Linked DNA regions of Homo sapiens. The protein of the gene in region 1 purifies or fractionates together with the protein of each later gene. This does not show direct contact. Each region holds a gene or a part of one and is shown on either strand. Other genes may lie near its edges.

Region 1 (7,889 bases):
CGCCAGCCCCAGACCCATAGTTTCTGATTCAGTAGGTCTGAGGAGGGCCTGAGAGTTCCCAGGGGTTGCTGGTACTGCCAGCTGGGCACCTTTGAGAACCTCTATCTTAGATGATTTTCCCAAACTTCAAGTATTGTCTTTATTTTTAAAAGAGAGAAAGGGGAGGGTGTGTGCCTGGTGTTGCTAGGCAACCATTAGCCAAAGGTGATGAGAGCCGGGTTCTGGGAAGGACAGCAGGCTGTGCGGGGTGACCTCAGACTGGACAGAAGGCTGTGACTAACTTTATTGGCATCTCTCTAGAGACATAAGTAGGCTTCACCGCCAATTTGCCTAAGGTGTTCAGCAGGACTATTGAAGGCCTGGCAGCTGCCGGAGGAGAGCCTGTCTCCCAGCCGGGCCTTCTGCTCCTTGCTCCAGAGGGCTTTGAGCTTGCGGTAGTACACCTTGCAGCTGAAGCCCTCCCTGAAGCCCCTCTTGATGTGGCTCTTGAGGAAGTCCAGGGTGGGGTACATGCGGCAGCAGGCCACGCACTTGTAGCCATTCTGCTGTGCTGGGTGCCACCTGGAAGCCATTAGGATGTCCTGGGATGTGATGGAGTCCAGGCCATGCCTGGATTTCTTGGTGGCTTCTCGAGGGCAAGTGTTCTCTGGGGAGGAAGAGGACGAACAGATGTTCTCAGCCATGTCCTCAGAAAGGCAGTTGTCCCACTTGCCCTCATCCTGCTGCACCTCTGGGAAGTCATAGGCCTCCAGCTGGCTCTCTTTGTCTGCACACACGAAGTAGCTGTAGGGGGAGAACCAGGGCCGGTAGATAGTGCAGTTCCGCCTCAGCTTCTCTCCGTGCTGGGTATCCCCCAAGCTGCAGTCTGCAAAGGAAAGGACCAGGTCTGAGTCTCTGGCAGGGAGCAGTGGAGCCAAGGATGCTGGAGCAGAAAGGTAAGAAGGCAAACATCAGGCATGACCTCGGTTACCTCCACCCCACCACGATTGCAGTTCTGAGAGCAGACGCAAGACAGTGGTAAGAGCAGCCGAGGGCATTCCTTCTCACTGCATTCTTTTTCTAGGGGTACAAAGGGCCGTTGGATCTTGGGGCAGGAGAGGCTGCTTTTAGTTGGTAAGCCTTGGTATTTGTCGAGGCCTTCCCCTCCTGGAGACACCATGTCCACTGACTCCTCTAAGGATAGACACAGACAGGTGACCCAGCGGATAGCCAAACCGGCGGCCTCCCACAGTCCCTCTTTTCGCCACCCATGGCTGTGACCCTTTTTTCAGCCTCACTGCTCATCTTGATCCCTCCACGGCCCACTCAGCCAGAAACTGCTCTTGCACACCAGTTTCAGAGACAGGAGAGGGGAGGCAAGGCGAGAGCCCCAGGCCTGTGGGTGTCTACCAAAGGAAGAAGGGCCAGATAGGAGGCTGCAGGTGACAAGACCGCGCATGGGGGTCCAGCTTCCAGACACCTCTGCTTCCTTAGGGAAGCAGCCCCTTTTCATCCTTAGCCTCTCACACATTCCCGCCCAGAGTCAGAGAAGTCCTCACCTGGTGAGAGCGCTGTGTTCTGTATCCCTTGCCTGACAATGATGCTTTGGTACTGGGGTGGCAGGGCCTGAGCTGGGCTGGATGCCTCAGTGGGTACTGCTGTCTTTGCAATGTCTGGGTTATAGAAGAAACACTGGTGAGCTGAGCAAGGTTGGGATTCCACTTTCTGGGACTCCCCCAGGCATACCTAGGGGCTCAACCTCTGTACTTCAAGGCATCTCAACGCTGAAACAGAACAGTGACCTCTCAAACTCAGCCAGGCAGAGCTATTCTGGATGACATCCTGGGGAATTCTGAATGGGGCCATTTCATTCAGGCCTCAGAAAGATCCTCTGGAAAGTGGGATTTATGATGTAGCCCAGATGACACCTCTCCGCCTGGCCTGCCCCTCACCTAACCCTCCTGCATCTCATCACGCGGATGGCTTCACTCCGCATTGCCAGTCTCCTGAGCATCCTGGGACCCAGAGTCACAGGCTGCAGAGCAATGTTCCATGCCCGCTTTGAGGATTGTCCAGTTGAAACATCTCATACCCACAGTCAGGGTTCCCGTGGGCCATCACTGCACGGCACACCCTGGAGTGCTAACACTTGGACAAAAAGCTGACCTGCCTCAAATCCCAGAATAGCAGCTGTGTTCAGTTTGGGGGACAAATTTATAAATGTCATATATGTAGACAAATGGATGCTTAGGAGGCCTACTCCACTGAGCAGTACTTCTCCATTTTACTGTGCATAGAGATCCCCTAGGGATCTTGTTAATAACACAGATGCTGATTCAGTGGATCTGGGGTGGGAACCTGAGATTCTGCATTTCTAACAAGCTCCCAGACGATGCAGACGTTGCAAGTCTAAGGACCGTATTTTGAACAGGGAGTCCTCAGGGTGTCCAACTTTATTCCATGATGTGCTCATCAGTTTACGCTGCTGCTTAGGCTTCTCTGATTTGGCTAACTCCAAATCCTCTCCAAACTTGTCAAAACAGAGCTAAAACTAGTTTCTACTCTATGTAGACATACTGCCACCTTGAGATTTCATGCACAATCTAGGGGGAAAAACTTGATGATAAATGGAGACTGAGGCAGGAGAATCACTTGAACCCAGGAGGCAGAGGTTGCAGTGAGCCGAGATCACATCATTGCACTCCAGCCTGAGCGACAGGAGTGAAACTCTGTCTCAAAAAAAAAAAAAAAGTTTTCCCCTTTCTTCCCTTACCAAAAATCAATACACAGCAGTAACTACTTACCACAAATGCAGCATTTTGAAAAATTATTTTCTCCCCATGCGTAATTTGACTTTCTCACTAAATCATGGTCCTGTAACATGATCTGGTAGGGTACTCAATTAAAAGCTTCAAAAAAAACCACATCTTTGTGGCCCTAGTGGCACCAAAGTTTACCTGGCAGGCTGGTGGCACGAGAGAACATAATGTCGGGAAAAGCACTCAGGGCGGAGGAAGAGATTGGAGGTCCAGAGATGCTGAGGAGTGAGAAGTTCTCCATATTCTGACCACTGCGGGGGTACAGAGATCACACGCCTGCTCTGGAGAGGCTGGCTGGTTTGTCCAGAGGATAAACATTCTGAGCACAGTTGATGTCACAAGGCACATGATTCCACTACCAACTAGGTTACCCTTTGGAAGATGAATGGAGTCTACTGAAAGCAAGATTAAAATGTGTAAAGATTGTATTTGACTTGCCATTGCCCAGTGGCAGGCCCTGATTGACAATACCCAGAGAGAAGAATGTAGTAGAGATACTGTAGTGATGCTGTCTATTTGTCCCCTTTTATCTTTGTTATCATCAGTTTTCTGTGTTGACACTGTCTACCCCCAGCCCTCCAGCCCTGGAAACCTCTGTCCTGTCTGAATAATCTCCTTCCTTTTCTTCTCCTTTATCAGCCTAATCTCTGTCAGCAAATATTTTTATTGTTTTGTTTTAGTTTGTTTTTTGAGGTGTATATATTTTTCACATTTTCTTTGGAAATTCAAATTTGTAAAAGTTGCAGAAATTAGGCTGGGTGCAGTGGCTCAGGCCTATAATCCCAGCACTTTGGGAGGCCAAGGCGGGTGGATCATTTGAGGTCAGGAGTTCAAGACCAGCTAGACAAACATGGTGAAACCCCATCTCTATTCAAAATATAAAATTTAGCCATGCGTGGTGGTGGGTGCCTGTAATCCCAGCTACTTGGGAGGCTGAAGCAGGAGAGTCGCTTGAACCTGGGAGACAGAGGCTGCAGTGAGCTGAGATAGCGCCACTGCACTGCAGCCTGGGTGACAGAGCGAGACTCCATCTTAAAAGCTGCAAAAAATAAAATCAATACAAAGAACACCCTTATGCCCTGTATCCAGATTTTCCTATTAACATTTTACCCCATTTGCTGTATCCGTCCCCTTCCTCCTGCCCCCTGCCCCATGTGTATGTGTATATACTTAATTTTTTCTGTGAACTATTTGAAGGTAAGTTATAAACACTATGTCCTTTTATACCTAAGTACTTCAATGTGTATTTCCTAAGAATAGGGGCCAAATATTGTTTTCAGTGGTTGGTGCTCTTTTTAGCAAGTGACTAAAGCACAAATGGGTGGCTTACTCAATACTATTTTGCTCATTGCTTAAGTCAGTTTGATGGGGAGACTCTGGGACTCCAGAGAGGCAAGGTTGCCTCTTCGTTTCGCTTGTCCTATAACAACCTTGTGCACTAACGAGGTGTGGAATAAGGTGAAAGATGATTGTGACACTTGGAAGATAAGCTGAAGACACCCCTTTCTAGATTATCACAACATGTCAACTAGATACAGAGCAGGGCTGCAGATCTAGATGGCAGGTATGTTTATGCTGCATGGGGAGCTATGGCCGCTCTGGAAATAGTGATGGGCTTGTTTTGCAGTGCTGTCGAGCATGTGTGAGTGAGGTGTGAGTTAGCTTCTGCACGTGAGAGCCCAGAGTTGTCTTCCTGTGTGTATTTATTCACGGTACTGAAACATTCGAAGGACAATGGGAGAACATGATTCCCCTCGTGTTCCTCCCAGATAGCCTGGTTTGGAACATTAGCATGTATTGGAAAGTAAGTTGAAGCCACATACTTTGGCAGTTTGGGGGGTATCAGCAATTTCATTTGGTCCATTATGGTGTAGAGAAAGCTCATGAGTCTGGGCATCAGCTTATGTGACTTCTAACCCTGCTCCGCCATGAGCTACCTGTGTGATATTGGGCAAATCTCTCTGCTACTTGGTTTACCCATGTTATTAGTTTAGACTCTAAACTGGAATGGATGAACATCTTCCTGGCTAAAACCCAGTGACTGACATGTGGACAGTAGCATACTTGTGAGTGATGCACACAGGACCCCGAGGACTTGGAATTGCATTCTGTCTTGACCCATCACATTTCTCCGACTGCCAACTTCAGACTCTCCCACTGCAACCTCAGACTTAAAGTAAAGGGAGCTTAAAATACTGGGGGGAAATATGGGAGGCAGAATCTCTCAGTGCCTGTGTAGAGTTTTTAAAATGCGACCCGGTTTTGGTTTAGTCACTGAAAAGTTTGTGGGAGCCTGGCGGTTCCAGGGTGCACACCACTCCTCGTAGCAGGTCCCCTGTCTTGTGTGCTGTGTCCCCCCGAGGTATGCTGGTGCTGGTGGCCCAGGCAGGAGGTGACACTCTCAAAGTGACTGGTCACTACGTAAAATGTGTCTTTCTTTTGTTTGTTTCCCACCTGCTTTCCGAGCCCCTTTCTCGGACAGGTAAGATATCCTGTTTTTTTGTGGATGACTTACATCCCCAGATGCCCTCCTCTGCTTGGGTGTGTGCATGTTGGGGGGTACTGTTGGGAGGGCCACCTGGCTGGGGTCCAGTCATCTCTCTGTCCTCCATTGCCATTATTTTCTGAACCATCAAGCCTCTAGTCCTGAAGCAAGAGAGATAATGTGTGGGGGTCATTAGCGTCATCATCAAGAAAGGGACCCATTGCACATCCTCAGACATAGGGATAAAGGGACCCCCCAGCCAGAGCCCCACTTTCACTTTGAATAGAAGGGCAGTTATCCGGGTCTGACCTCAAGAGCCCCTGAAGACCACTCCCATAGAGGGAGTTTTGAGTGGTTTTTATAAATGGAAAAAGACTTGTGAGCAGTTTCCCTACAATGTCAGTCCATCATGCAATTTTTAAGAATTCATATAAAAGTCAAATTCAATTAAACAAACTTATTAAATGCCTACTATCGTGCAAGACCCTAAGCTGGGCATTGTAGAAGATAAAGAAACACTTCAGGAGCTATGGCCCTCAAGGACCTTACCATTTTAAGACAAGGTGTATTTACTGGAAAGACTTAGACAAGGGTAAAGGGAGTGCATGGTAGGCTATCTTTACATTACTTAAGAATTCAGTGCGTTATAGACTATGTTATGAAGGGTAGAGAGCAAAAAATACAGGAAATCCAAAATGGTGCATAATCCAGAGTTCTGTTTATTACAAAGAGTGTTTTAAAAATAATAATAGCTTATAATTTACTAATCACCTTGACAGGTGTTTTTGGTGCTTGCCTTTTTAAAAACGAGTATGTCTGCTCTGAAAAGTCACTTTAAACCAATAAGGAGACCACCAGGGAAATGTCTGATTTGGGAAGTGGTGGCAATTTGCCTTCCCCGGGCATTTCGTACAGTTTCATTGTTGTCTATGTACTTTCTGGTTTGGGGGGAAATAGTTAAATGGTTTGGTTTCCAAATCTTCTTTGCTAGTTTGCGGATGACGTGATTAAAGAAAATAAGAAGGATGTGGGACCTGACAGGCAAATTGTGCCAAAGTGGATGATGTGGCAAGATACACACTTAGGAGAATCATCAGGAGTTGATGACCCTGCTTGCTGTGGAGCGGGCTGGAAGCTTCTGCTGGTGTGGTGGGTCTATCTGGAGCCCAGCCAGCTTGGGCCCTGTGTCCCAGGGATGCTGTCATGCTGTTCCCTGGCAGGTCCTCACCCTGCAGTGGTGCAGGCCACAGGGCTCATCCGCAGAGAGTAGTCTCCACTTCACTTCCCACAGGTTTTCCTCCCTGCCACCCAAAGGCCCTTAGAATATGGCATACCTAGGTAGTTGGCCTAGAAAGGATAGCACCACTGAAACCACAAGAAAGGTTTTCACTGGCCCGGGATACAGCAGTGCAGGGCAGAAAGAACTGCTTTACACAAAAATTCAGCAGAAGAAAAAGTACACCCTAACCCCAGTTACTCTTAGAAGAGGCTCAGTGAAAATAGACACTTAGCAGAGGTGTTCACAAGGAAAGGAGCCTAGTCATCAAATGATCGAGCGATCTCCTTTCCTCAGACTGACAACATATCTGGGGTAGTTGGTGTAGACAGAAACCTTGACCCAGATTCCAAGGCCTCAGAGTGGGTCTGGCTGCCTGATGACTGAGCTGGATTTCCAGATAGGGAGAGGATGGCCAAGTGTGAGTGTGTGGACAGCATGGCTTAGAGCCTGGAGCTCCAGTCATTTCAATAACAAACCTTTAAGCTACCACCTTGGCCACCACAATTTTCTATCTACAAAATGGGTTTTGGCGATTCAAGATCTGTATTGAGCACAGCTAGGTACCAAACCCAGGCTAGGTGTTGAAAATACAAAGATGAATGAGGCATGCTCTCTGCCTTGCAAATCTTTACAACCTAATGGGTTTATACCCAGCTCTTTGAGTTAATTTTTCAAGCCAAAGAGGATCCCTACAAGAAGGACCATGTACCAGGCATATATAGGCAGCTGTTCCATGATCTATAGCAGGGCAAAGTTGTGGACAGAGCCCTGAGCTGTGGGTTAGAAGGCCTGAGTTCTAGCTCCAGCCCTGCTAGTATTTAGCTGTGTGACCTCAGGCACGGCACTGCATTACGCGGAGTCCTGCAGGCTTCATCTGTAGGTAGATATCCTTCCATGTACCACCTCCCTAGGTGGTTGTAAGGATTAAGTAAGCTGATGTTCATTGGGATCCTCGTGCTTCACTGGCACCGAGTTCCTATCCATTTGGTACGAACTGATTCTGAACCACCACTTAGCACCTCTGCAAGAGCTGGCCCACTCGCTCAAGGCCCACCTCTGTAGACCTGAGGAGCTGCTGCCCCATTTTTTGTGGAGAATATGTGCTATACTCATGGCCTTCAGTGGGGAGCTTCTAACACCAAGCCTCATCCATGCCATCCCTCCACCAGCTTCCAACCCACTGAGAGCTCAGCACGTGCTTACGGTGATGTAAAAATGTCATGTTTCATTGCTTCATCCTCATTTTTTCTTTACTCCAAAGGGCGTGGTGACTCCAAGGTAAAGGGGCCAAGCCCATGAGTCAAGGAGGCAGGTTTACAGGAACAAC
Region 2 (7,000 bases), on another chromosome or scaffold:
CTGGGTTTTCCCACTCTTGTGAGGTGTGCCTCCTGCAAATCTTATGATGTCTGCATATGACTTGTTTGACATGGGAAATAAAATTTACATAAATATAAAAAGCGAAAGTCATCACTAAGAAAAAACTTAATTCTCAGAAAAGATTTCTTGGGCAGTGTACCACTATAGATACTTGGTTTTTTCAAAAAAATTCTTATTATCTTGGTAAATCATCAAATATTTAATGAACATCTACTGACTTAATAGATGAGATAATTTATTATAATAATTTATCTTATCATATTAGAAATAAACATCTATGTGAATGTGTGAGAGGTTTTGTGTGTGCACATATGTGTGTGTGTGTGTAAACAGACAGATACAAACCATGTTTCCAGTGAAATCTTAGGAGAAGACAAACTCAAATGTTTCCTTGTTCTGTTTTTATTTAACTCCAAATAGCTAATAACATAAAAACATTTTAAAAAAATCTCCAATACCCAACTATTACTTTTGGTTGACAACATTTGATTATTTAGTTCTTGCTTGTTTCCCACATGTAGTACAGAATCTATCATAATATTTTAAAAGTTTGCAGCAGGCTTAAAACCTGAATATTTAGATCCTAATCAAAAACCATGATGTAGTTATTAGTTTTGATTTTAAATACCTTGCTCCCACAGAACTTACTAAAACGAATAACCATAAATAGGCTAGCTATTAATTAGATCTCAATGAAATGCCCACATACAGCACATACATATAGGTAGTATATATGCTTTTATCCTTTACTACTCAAAGGATGATGTACAGTGGAGTTATATCATAAACACATTTAACTTACATTAACTCAACAAATGAGGTCAGTGAAAAGGAAGCCGTAAGGAAAATAACATGAAATCCTGTGGCGATCCCACCTAAAATGAATGCACACCCTTGAGTAAACCCAGGTGGGTGCTGTCCATCCGCTGGGTGGGCGCTTCACTCCTTGTCAGTTCACATCTGCCACTAGCGGGGCAAGCATCTTGCGGGCTGATTCTAGTGTTAAAAGTTATGTGCTTTTTTTTTTTTTTTTTTAACAAAATGGCCCCTAAACAAACACCAACAACTTCACTTGGTCTTCAAACAAAGAAACAGTCTTTTTTTCCAACATAGGAGGAAAAGCTACTTGTTGTGGATGTACAGGTTTCCAACATGGCACCCTTCTAAAGGGCTTTCAAGGATCATCCTAATAGCCCATTTTACCTATGTACTGACCTTGGAAGCTAACCCCTGAGTATGATGCAACTCCACTCTAATGTAAATTAAAATGCCATGATCTTAAAAATGCCATAATATTGTCAGTATAATTTAATTTCCAGTTTAGTTCCATCTTCACATTTAGCAGTGTGTGTCTGTGGCCGTCTCCTGGTGCCAGCATTTCAGAATGTACTATCACTGGCTGAGAAAATCTCACGGTGAGAAGAGTAGTGTGTCATAAGATCTGAACAAAAAAGCTACCAAAGTTGATCAGTCTCAGTATGATTCAGGATATGATTTTCAATTAGCAAATGGTGCGACTGAAGCAGAGAGTGGCTTTGTTTTGCTACACCCAGTGCTCCCAGGAATCTCCTGTGGCCTCCTTTTCATGGGTTTCTACGCTGGCAGCTACACTCTACTTCTTAAACACTTGGCCTTAGCCTGACCACCGCCCCGGTTCAGTTTCTATTTTTAAGAGCACCATTCTAATGGAAATGTCCCTGCCCTGAATTAAGCTGGGACTGTGCACTTTACCACTAGCTAGAGCTGTTATATATCATAGCGTTTAGGTTAAATTGGTAGGTATTGATTTCCTTGACTGTGACTTCGAAACTTGCTTCTGCTTCTTTTAGCCATGTAGGATTTCTACCTGGGCTGTAGATGAGGGTAAAATATCCCATGGAGGACTCCTTCAATAACCACATTTGGAAAATCTGAAAAAAAGAAAAAAAAAAAGAAAAAAAAAAGAAAAACTGCTTTTCTTATGTGAAACAAAATATAATTGCATTCTGTAGAATGGAACAAGGCAATGCTTACGGTAAACACAGGAATCTGCATCGCCAGGCATGTGCCTGGTTGAGGATGTGCTATCAGTCATGCTGCTTCAGCCTAAAGCCACTTGAGCACACCACCAGGCGCGGCAGGAATGTGCGGCCAGATTTGTAGCTTATTGATTTAAGGGATGTTCTAACAGTTAATGCTGCTAGGCCTCAGCTCTTTATCTGAATGTTTTCTCAAAAGGAAGATGGATTACACTGGCAATTCAATTTCTAACAAAATCTCAATATACTTGAAGGAATTCCAAGATTTCTACTGGGAATACCTCACTGCAGTTTTTCCATTGTGGTTTACAGTGCATTTAGTCCAAGTTGTCCTGAGTCTACTTGTTCCATTAGACTAGCTTCGAAAGAGAGCAGTAAGATGGGGGTCAGTCTTCCTAACTTAAAAGGGCAAATTTCCAACAGAAGCCATCCTGCCAAACTTGAAAACACAGCTCCATTATTATAGGAGACAGGAAGGGAGGCCAGGGGTGCAAAGTATGTTACAGCACATTCCAGTCATTACAGTAGGTAAAATGTGAATGGATTACTTGAATGGGAACCAATCTATCTCATGGTTCAGAAGTTTAATTTTTAAACTTTAATCTGTACATAATGATATCCAGGAACTATCCTAAAGCACTTTAAATAAATATCATTATTATGTAAGAAAATAAAAGTAGTCCAATATTTTAAGAAAAAAAATATGCATCTAGCCTCTATTGTCTACTGTGTAAATAAAATCATTTACTAGGGGATTGGGCCTCATCAGAGGAGGCAGAAAGGCTCTCAGAGGCTAGGGGTAGGCAGAGGGAGCTAGCCAGGTGGCAAGTCTGTGGCCAGAGGGAGCCTGGAGGGTTCAGAGACCTAAACGAAAGCCAACATAGTGAGAAAAGTGGGAATGAGGAGGCTGGAGGGCACGGGGTGCCCCATCACACCTGGGAAGAATGGATAGGAGTTTGGGCTTTATCTGAAACTCAATGGGAAGCTACTGAGGGAGTTTAAGCAGAGTGGGACAGAGTTGAACTGTGTTTTGAAAAAGATGATTCTGGCTGCCAGCTGGAGAATGGACTGGAGAAGTTCAAAGCAGACACAAGATCAGTTTGGAGACTACTGCAGTAGTTCGAGAGGGCAATGGTGGCAGCCCAAACGAGGTTGAGGATGGAGAACCATGGAGGAATTCTAGAGAAATGAAGGACGGGACCAAGTGACAGGTTAGATGTGGCTAGTGAGGGAAGGGGTGAAGTCAAGGATGCCTCCTGGGTTTCTGGCTTGCATAATCAGAGGGTGGTGGGAGAAGACCCAGAAGAGGAGTAAAATAGAAGATCATCAACTCTGTCTGGAACTTGTGTTTGAGGCACCCGTGAGACTTGCCAAAGGGGAAGTCAAGTAAGTGATAGAATGTGGTGACAAGTTTACCTCAACATATATTTATTGAGAGGCCTCTGTTTCCTGGATCGACCACTTAATACCTGTGTGACCTTAGGTGAGTTATTGAACATCTCTGTCTCTCTCTTTCCTCAACTGTGAAATGGATTTCATAATAGTATCTACCTTATAGGCTGTTTTAAAAATTGGGGAGACAAGCGAATGAACACACAAACTATATCTTAGAAAATCTCTAATACATGAATATCCAGTTATTTCTGGTTGATGACACTTGATTTTTTTAGTGCATGCCTTTCCCCAACATGAAGTAATGGTTTTTCATGAAATATATCTTTGAAAGCGTGTGATAGGCCTTACACATGTATATTTAGAGCCCAATAAAAAACAATAATTTAGCTAAGTTAATTTTAATTCTAAATGTATTTCTCCCACATAGAAGGATATTAAAATCAATTGCCATAAATAGAGCTGTTAATTTTCTAAAAGATACTCAAATAGGACATATTACATGACGGTGGCAGACATGCCTTTATTCTTTGCCACTCACAATATAGAAGTCGATTTGAAGGTCAGTGAAATTACATTGTAAGTATATTTAGCTTAAAAGGATTCAACTAAATAAGTTAAGCAAAAAAGACATAAAGGAAAATAACATTACATACTATGGGTAACTCTACTGCGCTGGTAACATGTTAAGCAGTGACAAGAACAGGGCAAGGAGAAAAATACAGCAGGGCATGGGCTGGAGAGGGCCCAGAGACAGGGAAGTGAGGGAAGAATTTGAGTGATGGTGCCATTTGGGTGATGACTTGCAGGAAGGAACAAAGCAGCCCGCTGGGAGGGTGTCCGGGAGAAGGGCATTCCTGGCAGAGGGAACAGCAAGTGCTGAGGCTCTGTATGTATGTCCACCAAGAGCTGAACATATGCTAGATGCTGGGGATTTAGAGGACAAAGCCAAAGAACAAAGATAAGATAGTCTGTGACCATTACTATGAAGGAAGCAAATAGGGTTCTCTGACAAAAAGTGAATGGGATGGAGGTGTTTTAAAGCAAGGTCCACCAACTAGCGATCAGAAATAACATAATCAGGGTTTTGGGTTGTTTTCTCATCCGTTCCACTCTACTTTAAACTGTGGATTTTGGCTTCATCATATGCATGATTTACTACAATGTCCATTATTGCCAGCATTACTCAGTAAACTGTCCTTGACTTTGATTCTCATTGAGAGGTGATGAGAAGGAAGGTGATTTAGGGCAGGTTTTGCTGTTATTTTTGTTGGTTTTTGCTTATTTAATGAACATGTATTGTGAATGGGTAGAGGGGCTCGTGGAGAGGGAGAATCAGCACAGGCTCTCTGAAGCCGTGGCATTCAATGTGAGCCCTGGAAGATGAGAGGCAGCCGGCTATGGATGGAGAAAACAAGGCTCACGGTGGAGGAAACAGCACATCTGAGGCCCAGAAAGAATTCCAGGGTGGCTAGGGCAAAGTGTATGAGGAGGTCCAGTAGGAACATGAGCCTGGGGCAGGCCACAGAGGGCCTTGCAAACAAACCACAGGTAAGAGTCTGGAGCTCCCAGGACAGAGTTGAGATGGAGATACAATATTGTGACTCAGGTGTATACACGTGGTAGGCAGGCCACACACAAGGAGATTATCTGAAAGGAAGTGTAGTGAGAAGAGGAGAGGGTCTATGACAGCATTCTGGTCAGCTGCTAGAGAGTGGAAGGAAGTGGGAAAGCCAAGGGGAGACACTGTTTGAAGGAGGAGAAACAGATCAACATGTCTAAAGTCCATGAGAGGCCAAGGAAGATGAGGACTGAAAAATATCCATGGGCTTCAGCCACACTGAAATCACTGGGGACTTTGGCAAGAGTTGTTTTGAGTTTCCCAGGAAAATCAAAACAAAGACCAAAAGGCAAATGCTTTTCAATCTGTTAAGAGAGTACTCTCCTGATTTCTAATGTTAAAAGCTAAGGGATATTTGATTATTAGTATTTTATAAGAGGATAATGCTTAAATGTCAGATCTTTGAAGACAGACACTCCTCTGACTTTGTAGGGGGCGGGGTCAGTACATCTGTGAAGAAATTTCCATACGCAATATCCTCTGGAATAATAACCTTAATATCTTGCTAAGAGGCATCATAACAAAAATGTGATGCAAGTAAAGTTTCTCTTTAAATTAAATGCTAAAGATTTGCAAGAATATATCATTAGTATAACACTTCTAAGATCACAAGAATCTGATTCGTGAAACTGGATTGGTCAAAATTCCAAGAAAACAGATCTGGTGACTGGTCCTTCCATACCTCCCATCCCATCCATCAAACCTGTGATCCATTTATTCTCAAACAGGAGTTCCCTTATTTTGCAAGTCTTCATCCATATTACCATGCTACCAATGATACATACGTTTTACTCTTTCCAATTCAAGACATTTACCCCTGATGTTTCTTCCCAGAAAGTTCCTCCTGTTCTTCACTGTCCAAGCCAGGCATAGAGCACATGGTAGGCACTGCTCAATAAGCTGTATGAATTGGATTTAAAGGTCATAAAATATCTTCCCTCTTCTATCAAGTATCTTGGCTATTCTAGTCCACAGTAACCATTTCACTGTCTACACTTCTGCAGGAATTTCAGTCAGATGCATGACATATCTGAGCATAAACAATACATGGAAAAAGTGCTTGTGGAGCCATTTTTCAAAGATAATAAGAATAATTTATAAAACTATCTATTTAATCTATATTAGATTGCATTATGAATATTTGTTAAATATGATATTTTAACATGACATCAACTAACATGTATATTTGTTAAACATAAGAAGCAAACGTTACAGAGAGAAAGTTATTCTTCACTGCGAGGATCTTATAGGAAAAAGAATATGAGGTCATATTCCTATACAGCAAAGGCAGCTCACTCTGATCGGGGTGCTACTAGGAAGGGTCCCTCAACCCTTCCTAGGGAGGAGCAGGGCTGCGTCCTGGCCACCCTTCTTCAAACTGACAGCTAAGTGGGTGATGTGAGTACGTGTATCCTTGCTATAGAGAGCAGTTCCCTTTCTCCTGCTCATAAGGTTTTATTGTCAGAAACAGGGAGGGTTTCAATGGATTATTTATCTATTACTATTTAGTGACTCCCAGAAACAAGATTCACTATATGCAAAGAGCACAGAAGGAATACATAGGCAACAAGAGGTCCACCCATCAACCATCTGAGAGTGGACAAGTCAGGGACTTCCCTGGACCCCAATTTTCTCATTCAGTCAATGATAATATCTGCCCTGCTTAGTTCACAAGGTTGTTAAGGAAATTAAATGAGATAATGTATGCAAATGAGCTCATAAAGAGATGCATAACAGAACACTTTGAGAGGGACTCTGATGAATTTAAATTTCTTTGCACAGAGAAAAGACTCAGTCGAAAATATTGATTACAATTATACTTAGATCAATTAATTGTATTTAAAATATGCAACTTTTAAAAATATATAGTTTGCCATCAAAGATGCTGCAATGTATATACACATAGTTTCGGGGAAGAGGCTTTTTTTTGAGACGGAGTCTCGCTCTG
Region 3 (7,000 bases), on another chromosome or scaffold:
GAGCTACCACACCCGGCCAGTCAACCAAAATTTTAAGAGCCATCTGAGATTGAAATTAGAAACAAAAACAGTAACACAATAAAGCATCATTTTACCTGTGTGCATACACTGAACACCAAGTTAAATGATGAAAGTTATGAAGACACTCATTCTTGACAGCAAAAATCCCTGGTGAACAGTGACAGATCATGAGAAAACCAAGACTTAATGATATTTTAGGTACAGCTTAAATATACTTTAAAACAAAATGATCTAGCCAGGTGCGGTGGCTCACGCCTGTAATCCCAGCACTTTGGGAGGCCGAGGCAGGTGGATCACTTGAGGTCAGGAGTTCGAGACCAGCCTGACCAATATGGTGAAACCTCATCTCTACTAAAAAAAATTAGCCAGGCATGGTGGTATATGCCTGTAGTCCTAGCTACTCAGGAGGCTGAGGCAGGAGAATCACTTGAACCTGGGAAGTGGAGGTTGCAGTGAGTCAAGATCACGCCATTGCATCCCAGCCTGGGCAACAGAGAAAGACTGCATCTCAAAAAAAAAAAAAAAAAAAAAAAAAGATCTAGGTCCAGAAATGACTAAAGCCAAGGATCCTTGATCCCTGGGCCACTGACCGGTATCCAGTATAGAAGCGAAGTGAAGCTTCATCTGTATTTACAGCCACTCCCCAAAGCTGGCATTACCGCCTGAGCTCAGCCTCCTGTCAGATCAACAGAATTAGATTCTCATAGGAACGCAAACCCTGCTGTGAACTGCACATCAGAGGGATCTAGGTTGTGCATTCCTTATGAGAATCTAATGCCTGACGATCTGTTACTGTCTCCCATGACCCCCAGATGGAAGCAGGTAGTTGCAGGAAAGCAAGCCCAGGGCTCCCATTGATTCTACATCAAGGTGAGTTGTATAATTATTTCATTATATGTTACAATGTAATAATAATAGAAATAAAGTGCACAATAAATGTAATGCACTTGAATCATCTCAAAATCATTCCCACCCCCACCCCACCCCCTACTTGCTCCAGTCTGTGGAAAAACTGTCTTCCACGAAACCTGTCCCTGGTGCCAAAAAGGCTGGGGACCACTGACTAAAGCCAAGGAATAACCCACATACTTTACATGGGTTCAAGCATTTACTCCGAAATGAGATACAAATTTATATATATATATATATATATATATATATATATATATATATATATATGTATATATATATATATATATATATATATATATGTATATATATATATATATATATTTTTTTTTTTTTTTTTTTTTGAGACAGAGGCTCGCTCTGTCACCCAGGCTGGAGTGCAGTGGCATGATCTCAGCTCACTGCAACCTCTGCCTCCCGGGCTCAAGCAATTCTCCTGACTCAGCCTCCCAAGTAGCTGGGACTACAGGCACACACCACCATGCTTGGCTAATTTTTGTATTTCAGTAGAGATGGGGTTTCACCATGTTGGCCAGCCTGGTTTCGAACTCCTGACCTCAGGTGATCCGCCCGTCTTGGCCTCCCAAAGTGCTGGGATTACAGGTGTGAACCACTGCGCCTGGCCACAAATTAATAATTTCCAGCAAGTTTTTATCCTGCAATCCACAGATTCAAAAGGGAGAATAAGAACACCCTGAATCGTAAGCATCTAATTAAATACAAATAGGTTACTTATATTTATGTAAGAGCTCTTCAGCTTGTCTATGAGGCAAAATGCCAACAAGTGAAGAAGTACAGGATGGCTCTCCAGTATCAAATGAAACGATGTGGAGTGTGTGAGAGGGCATGATTTGACCTTGACATAAGGGTGATAATGATTCTCAGAAGAACTGGAAGTTAGGACACTCCAGTAACTCCCCTGAGATTCAACAGTCTAATTTGTATTAGTAGGAATAGGGCTATATACATCTCTAACATTTTGTCCAGCTTAAAATGCTACCTAGCATTATTACATTATCTCATAAGCCAGTATAAAGCAGCTCTAGTATACCATGAATTCAGTTTCCCTTCAAGTTAAAAAGCACATTTCTCGTGATCTGTGACGTACGTTTTTCTGGTTTTTTTTTTTTAGTCCAAGCTAAGCATGGACACTGTAATATATCTTAATGAAGACATATCCAATGCAGCGTCATCTTTATTCTCTGATAACAGCCATTATGTTATTCACAGGATATATGCTCAGTGCCAAAGATAAGATTAAGCTGCTTTTAAAAGTGAAGAGTAAGGATTAACTAGTGCTTTATAAATACGTTCTAAAACATTTGACCTTCAGACACAGAGGGCAAAAATAGTGATTAAAACACACTAGGCAGCTGGGAGAGGTGGTATTCATCTGCAGTCCTAGCTACTCAGGAGGCTAAGAGGCAGGAGGATCATTTGAGTCCAGGAGTTTGAGGCTGTAGTGTGCTATTATCATACTTCTGAATAGCCACTGCACTCCGCCCGGGTGACAGAGCAAGAACCTGCCGCTAAAAATAAAAATAATAAAAGATGAAAGAAAAATAGGAAAAACAAGAAAGGAAGGCAAGTAGTAGACACAATATCAAACTGCTGGAATGCTTTTTTTCTAGCTACTATCCTTTGAAAATAGGTCTTAAAATTCCAGGACTAAAAGTCCTTAGGATCAATGAGGCCAGTGACACTTTTAAGTAGGGAACCCTTGTTCAAACAAAACCCTACCCAAAAGCTCAGTATGCAAAGGCAAATGGAAATGAGTATTTAGCTGGCAAAAGAAGGGTAGGCAGCCCTAAATCTTTCTATTCAGCACTCTCCTTCCCATTAGAACAATCCTTTTTTTATGTTCTAAATGAGGAAACAGATGGGCTTACACACATTAAGGAACTGACTGACTGTAGATGACCCAGTCAATATCACATGGCAGATCTACAGCTCAAACCTCCAAAACCTATCTAGATAAAGAATTTTTCGGTATGTCATAGTTGTTTCTTGGGTCATTGCACGGTGGCTGATGCCTATAATCCCAGCGCTTTGGGAGGCTGAGGCAGGAGAAGTACTTGAGCTCAGGAATGCAAGACCAGTCTGGGCAATATAGCAAGAGCCCATCTATATAAAAAAAATTTAAAAAAATTTTTAAATTGTTCCTTTGGAGAACTTAATTCAATTTAGAATGGAACACACAAAAAAAGGTTTTAACAGAAACTCAATACAGCTGACCCTTGAACAAAAGGGGCTTGAAATGCACAGGTCCACTTGTACACAGGTTTTTTTCTGCCTCTGCTACCCAAACAAGATCAACCCCTCTTCTTCCTCCTCAGCCCAAAGTGAGGATGATGAGGGTAAAGAGCTTTATATATATATATATATATATATATATAGTTATTGACCAATCATGTTATTGGTGAAGCTTCCAGTGAACAGTAGGCTAGTAGTAGTTAAGCTTTTGGGGAGTCAAGTTATACTTGGGGCCAGGTGCAGTGGTCCATGCCTGTAATCCCAGCACTTTGGCGGGCCGAGGTGGGTGGATCATCTGAGGTCAGGAGTTTGAGACTAGCCTGGCCATCACTGTGAAACCCCGTCTCTACTAAAAATACAAAAATTAGCTGGGTGTGGCGGCGCGCCTGTAATCCCATGAACCTGGGAGGCAGAGGTTGCAGTGAGCCAAGATCACACCATTGCACTCCAGCCTGGGTGACAGAGCAAGACTCCATCTCAAAAAAAAAAAAAAAGTTACACTTGGATTCCTGACTGTGGGGCACAGTGGGAGTGGGCTGGGGTTCAGTGCCCCTAACCCCAGCACTGTTCAAGGGTCAACTGTAATTTTAAGTGAGCTCTCACATATTAATTGACAAGGTCCAAGAATTTTCTTTCTTTTTTTTTCCCCTGCCTCAGGTTTATTTGTACTAATAGCACAGGAGGACCCCAGCCCCATAAAGACGGCAGCCCAGGGGGGTTGCATCAGTCCTTCTGTCCTCACGTTGGCAGACAGAGATACCTACTCCGAAGCCTTTGTAGGGGCCTGAGAGCCTTTGGGAGGAGCCTGAGCTGGAACTGAAGCTGGAGCTGCAGCCTGGGCCTTGGTTGATCCTTGGCCTTTGGCCCACACAGTCTGAGCCCCTTGGCAATGCGGACACAAGCACACTTCCCAAGCTTGGGGTGGACAATGTAGGCAAGTCAATCGAGTTCGCAGCTGACACCCTTTGGGATCTTGGGCTTAACCTCCTTGGGCTTTACGAGGGCCCTGCTAGCCTCAGCAAGTGCACTCATTGCCTTGGCATTGTTGGCCTGCATCTTCTTTAGGCCCTTCTTGTGCTTCTTGGCAAAGTGCATGTTCCTCAGGAACCTGGAGCCCACCATTTCTGTGCCATTTTCAGGACTGGTTGTGTGTGGTGTGGTTCGTGGACTTGGCCATGTCTGTACCTTAAGCCGCGGCTCTCCAAGTGCCTAGAACCGGAAGCTTCATTTCTTAAAATATCAAGAAAATGGATGCCATTCTCTTATCCTTGCTTTTTTTTTTTTGATACGGAGCCTCATTCTGTCGCCCAGGCTGGAGTGCAGTGGCACGATCTTGGCTCACTGCAACCTCCGCCTCCCATGTTCAAGCAATTCTCCTGCCTCAGCCTCCTGAGTAGCTGGCACTACAGGCGCACGCCACCACACCAGGCTAATTTTTTTTTTTTTTGTATTTTAGTAGAGACAGGGTTTCACCTGTCTCTACTACCCAGGCTGGTCTCCAACTCCTGGGCTCAGGCAATCTGCCCACCTCGGCCTCCCAAAGTGCTGGGATTACAGGCGTGAGCCATGGCGCCCGGCTTATCCTTGCTCTTTACTCAGGATGCTATGCTTCTTAACAATAGGTCTCTCAAATTACACAGGAAGGACCTGATTCAGCAGGTCATCTACGCAGGCCAGGTAATTTTCAGTCTCTGTTGTAAGATATACCAAAGTATCTTAAAGAAAATCCTGGCTGGGTGCGGTGGCTCATGCCTGTAATCCAAGCACTTTGAGAGGCCGAGGCGAGCAGATCACGAGGTCAAGAGATGGAGACCATCCTGGCCAAAATGGTAAAGCCCCATCTCTATTAAAAATACAAAAATTAGCTGGGCGTGGCAGCACGTGCCTGTAGTCCCAGCTACTCAGGAGGCTAAGGCAGGAGAATTGCTTGAACCCAGGAGGTGGAGGCTGCAGTGAGCCAAGACTGTACCACTGCACTCCAGCCTGGTAACAGAGTGAGACTCCATGTCAAAAAAAAAAAAAGCAAATCCTATAGGGAATTTTGTAACAGAAAACATAGGGAAGGGATTGAACAAATTTGTATATGAAGGATAAAGGCAGCAAAATCTAAATTTTTTAAATTAGTGACAATACTTCTAAAACAATAGATAACACATAACTTTTATCTAGCTAACACTAAATAGTCAACTTAATTCAATACTTTCCGAGTAAATATTTATTAAGTATGTACCATGTATAGGTGATACAGAAATAGTGGGGAACAAACTGAGGGGGATGGGAAGATGCTGCTACCCAAATAAAGAATGTTTACATAAATCTTTATCCTTTTTGCTTCAGTGGAAACAGTTTTTTTTTTACATTTCACTTTAAAACCAATGAACCACTTTTGTTTCCATGTACCTGACCCTACCACTCCTAAAGCAAATTTACCCTTTCCACACTCTCATCCAATTACTGTGTTCTCCTTTAGAGACTACACCCAGAAGCCACACTCTATTCTTGGATGCCTTACCAAACCAGTTCACCAAGCTTTCTTCCTTAGAGCCAGATCCTGAAATCCCATCTCTCAGGAAGCCTTAACTTGAAAGTCAGGTTAATCTGTTTAGCCTCACCCACAGACAGCTTATAACTACCATAACTCTCTCTGCACTCACCACCTTATAATAGGCACCTATTACTATAATTCTGCTCAGAAGTTAATTTATTCATGTGCTTATTCAGTACATTACTCATTGCCCTTATGGGTCTGTATCAGGTCTTAAATAAAAGCTACCAGATAAAAGGACATGTACTGTACTTGGGTTTAGCACTGAAAAATGACAATGCTTAATGCTTTTTGAAACTGATTTCAAATACATTAAATTTAACCTGATTTGTGAAATTTATAAAATCTCCCAACATAGATGAATCTCAAAAACATTATGTTAAGTGAAAAGTGCCAGACACAAATGACCTCATATCGTATGATTCCATTTATATGAAATTCTAGGAAAAACTATAGTAATGGAAAGCAAATCAGGGGTGAGGGGCCTTATTTTCCCACATAGTAGGTTTTTTTTTTAAAGGCAAGAATGATTTAAAAACTTCAAATCTATATCATCTCAGATTTAATCTTCACCTCATAAGATAAATTTGCAACTTTCTTCCAAATGATTTACTTGCTCATTTACAACCAATAGCACATTTTATCACTCAATTCTCCATTAAAACTGTAAATCAGCATTGGAACTTTGTTTTTTTTTTTGTTGTGTTTTTTTGTGTTTTTTTGAGATGGCGTCTCGCTCTGTCACCAGGCTGGAGTGCAGTGGCGCCATCTCAGCTTACTGCAACCTCCGACTCCCGGGTTCAAGCTATTCTCCTGCTTCAGCCTCCCGAGTAGCTGGGATTACAGGCACGTGCCACCATGCTCAGCTAATTTTTGTATTTTTAGTAGAGACGAGGTTTCACCACGTTGGCCAGGCTGGTGTTGAACTCCTGACTTAAAGTAACCTGCCTGCCTTGGCCTCCCAAAGTGCTTGGATTACAGGCGTGAGCCACCACGCCTGGCTGGAACTCTTTTTAAGGACAGTTTTATTTGAGTTGTTTCCATGTAAAGACTATGCAACCCAGTCCTTAATTCAAGACATGAAAAATACAAACTGGAATAGAAAAAGGGGCTAACAGGCTGGGCCCGGTGGCTCACGCCTATAATCCCAGCACTTTGGGAGGCTGAGGCAGGTGGATCACCTGAGGTCAGGAGGTGGAGACCAGCCTGGCCAACACGGCAAAACCTCAGCTCTACTAAAAATACAAAAATTAGCCAGGCGTAGTAGTGCAG

The links. Proteins that work in one complex are often made in the same cells at the same time.
Region 2: the proteins of SPATA46 (region 1) and SNX24 purify together in Homo sapiens (affinity purification with mass spectrometry; 3 studies listed by BioGRID and IntAct, with this or other methods). This does not show direct contact.
Region 3: the proteins of SPATA46 (region 1) and CSNK1A1 purify together in Homo sapiens (affinity purification with mass spectrometry; 3 studies listed by BioGRID and IntAct, with this or other methods). This does not show direct contact.

What each region holds. Positions count from the first base shown.
Region 1 is NC_000001.11:162,373,752-162,381,640, forward strand, and holds the start of SPATA46 (spermatogenesis-associated protein 46), read right to left. Parts: upstream 3,104-7,889; 5' UTR 3,040-3,103; coding exon 2,937-3,039; intron 1,653-2,936; coding exon 1,539-1,652; intron 866-1,538; coding exon 297-865; 3' UTR 1-296. UniProt on the Homo sapiens protein: Plays a role in spermiogenesis and fertilization.
Region 2 is NC_000005.10:123,002,613-123,009,612, reverse strand, and holds the end of SNX24 (sorting nexin-24), read right to left. Parts: intron 1,932-7,000; coding exon 1,864-1,931; 3' UTR 408-1,863; downstream 1-407. UniProt on the Homo sapiens protein: May be involved in several stages of intracellular trafficking.
Region 3 is NC_000005.10:149,541,440-149,548,439, forward strand, and holds part of CSNK1A1 (casein kinase I isoform alpha), read right to left. Parts: intron 4,406-7,000; exon of another isoform or gene 3,831-4,405; intron 1-3,830.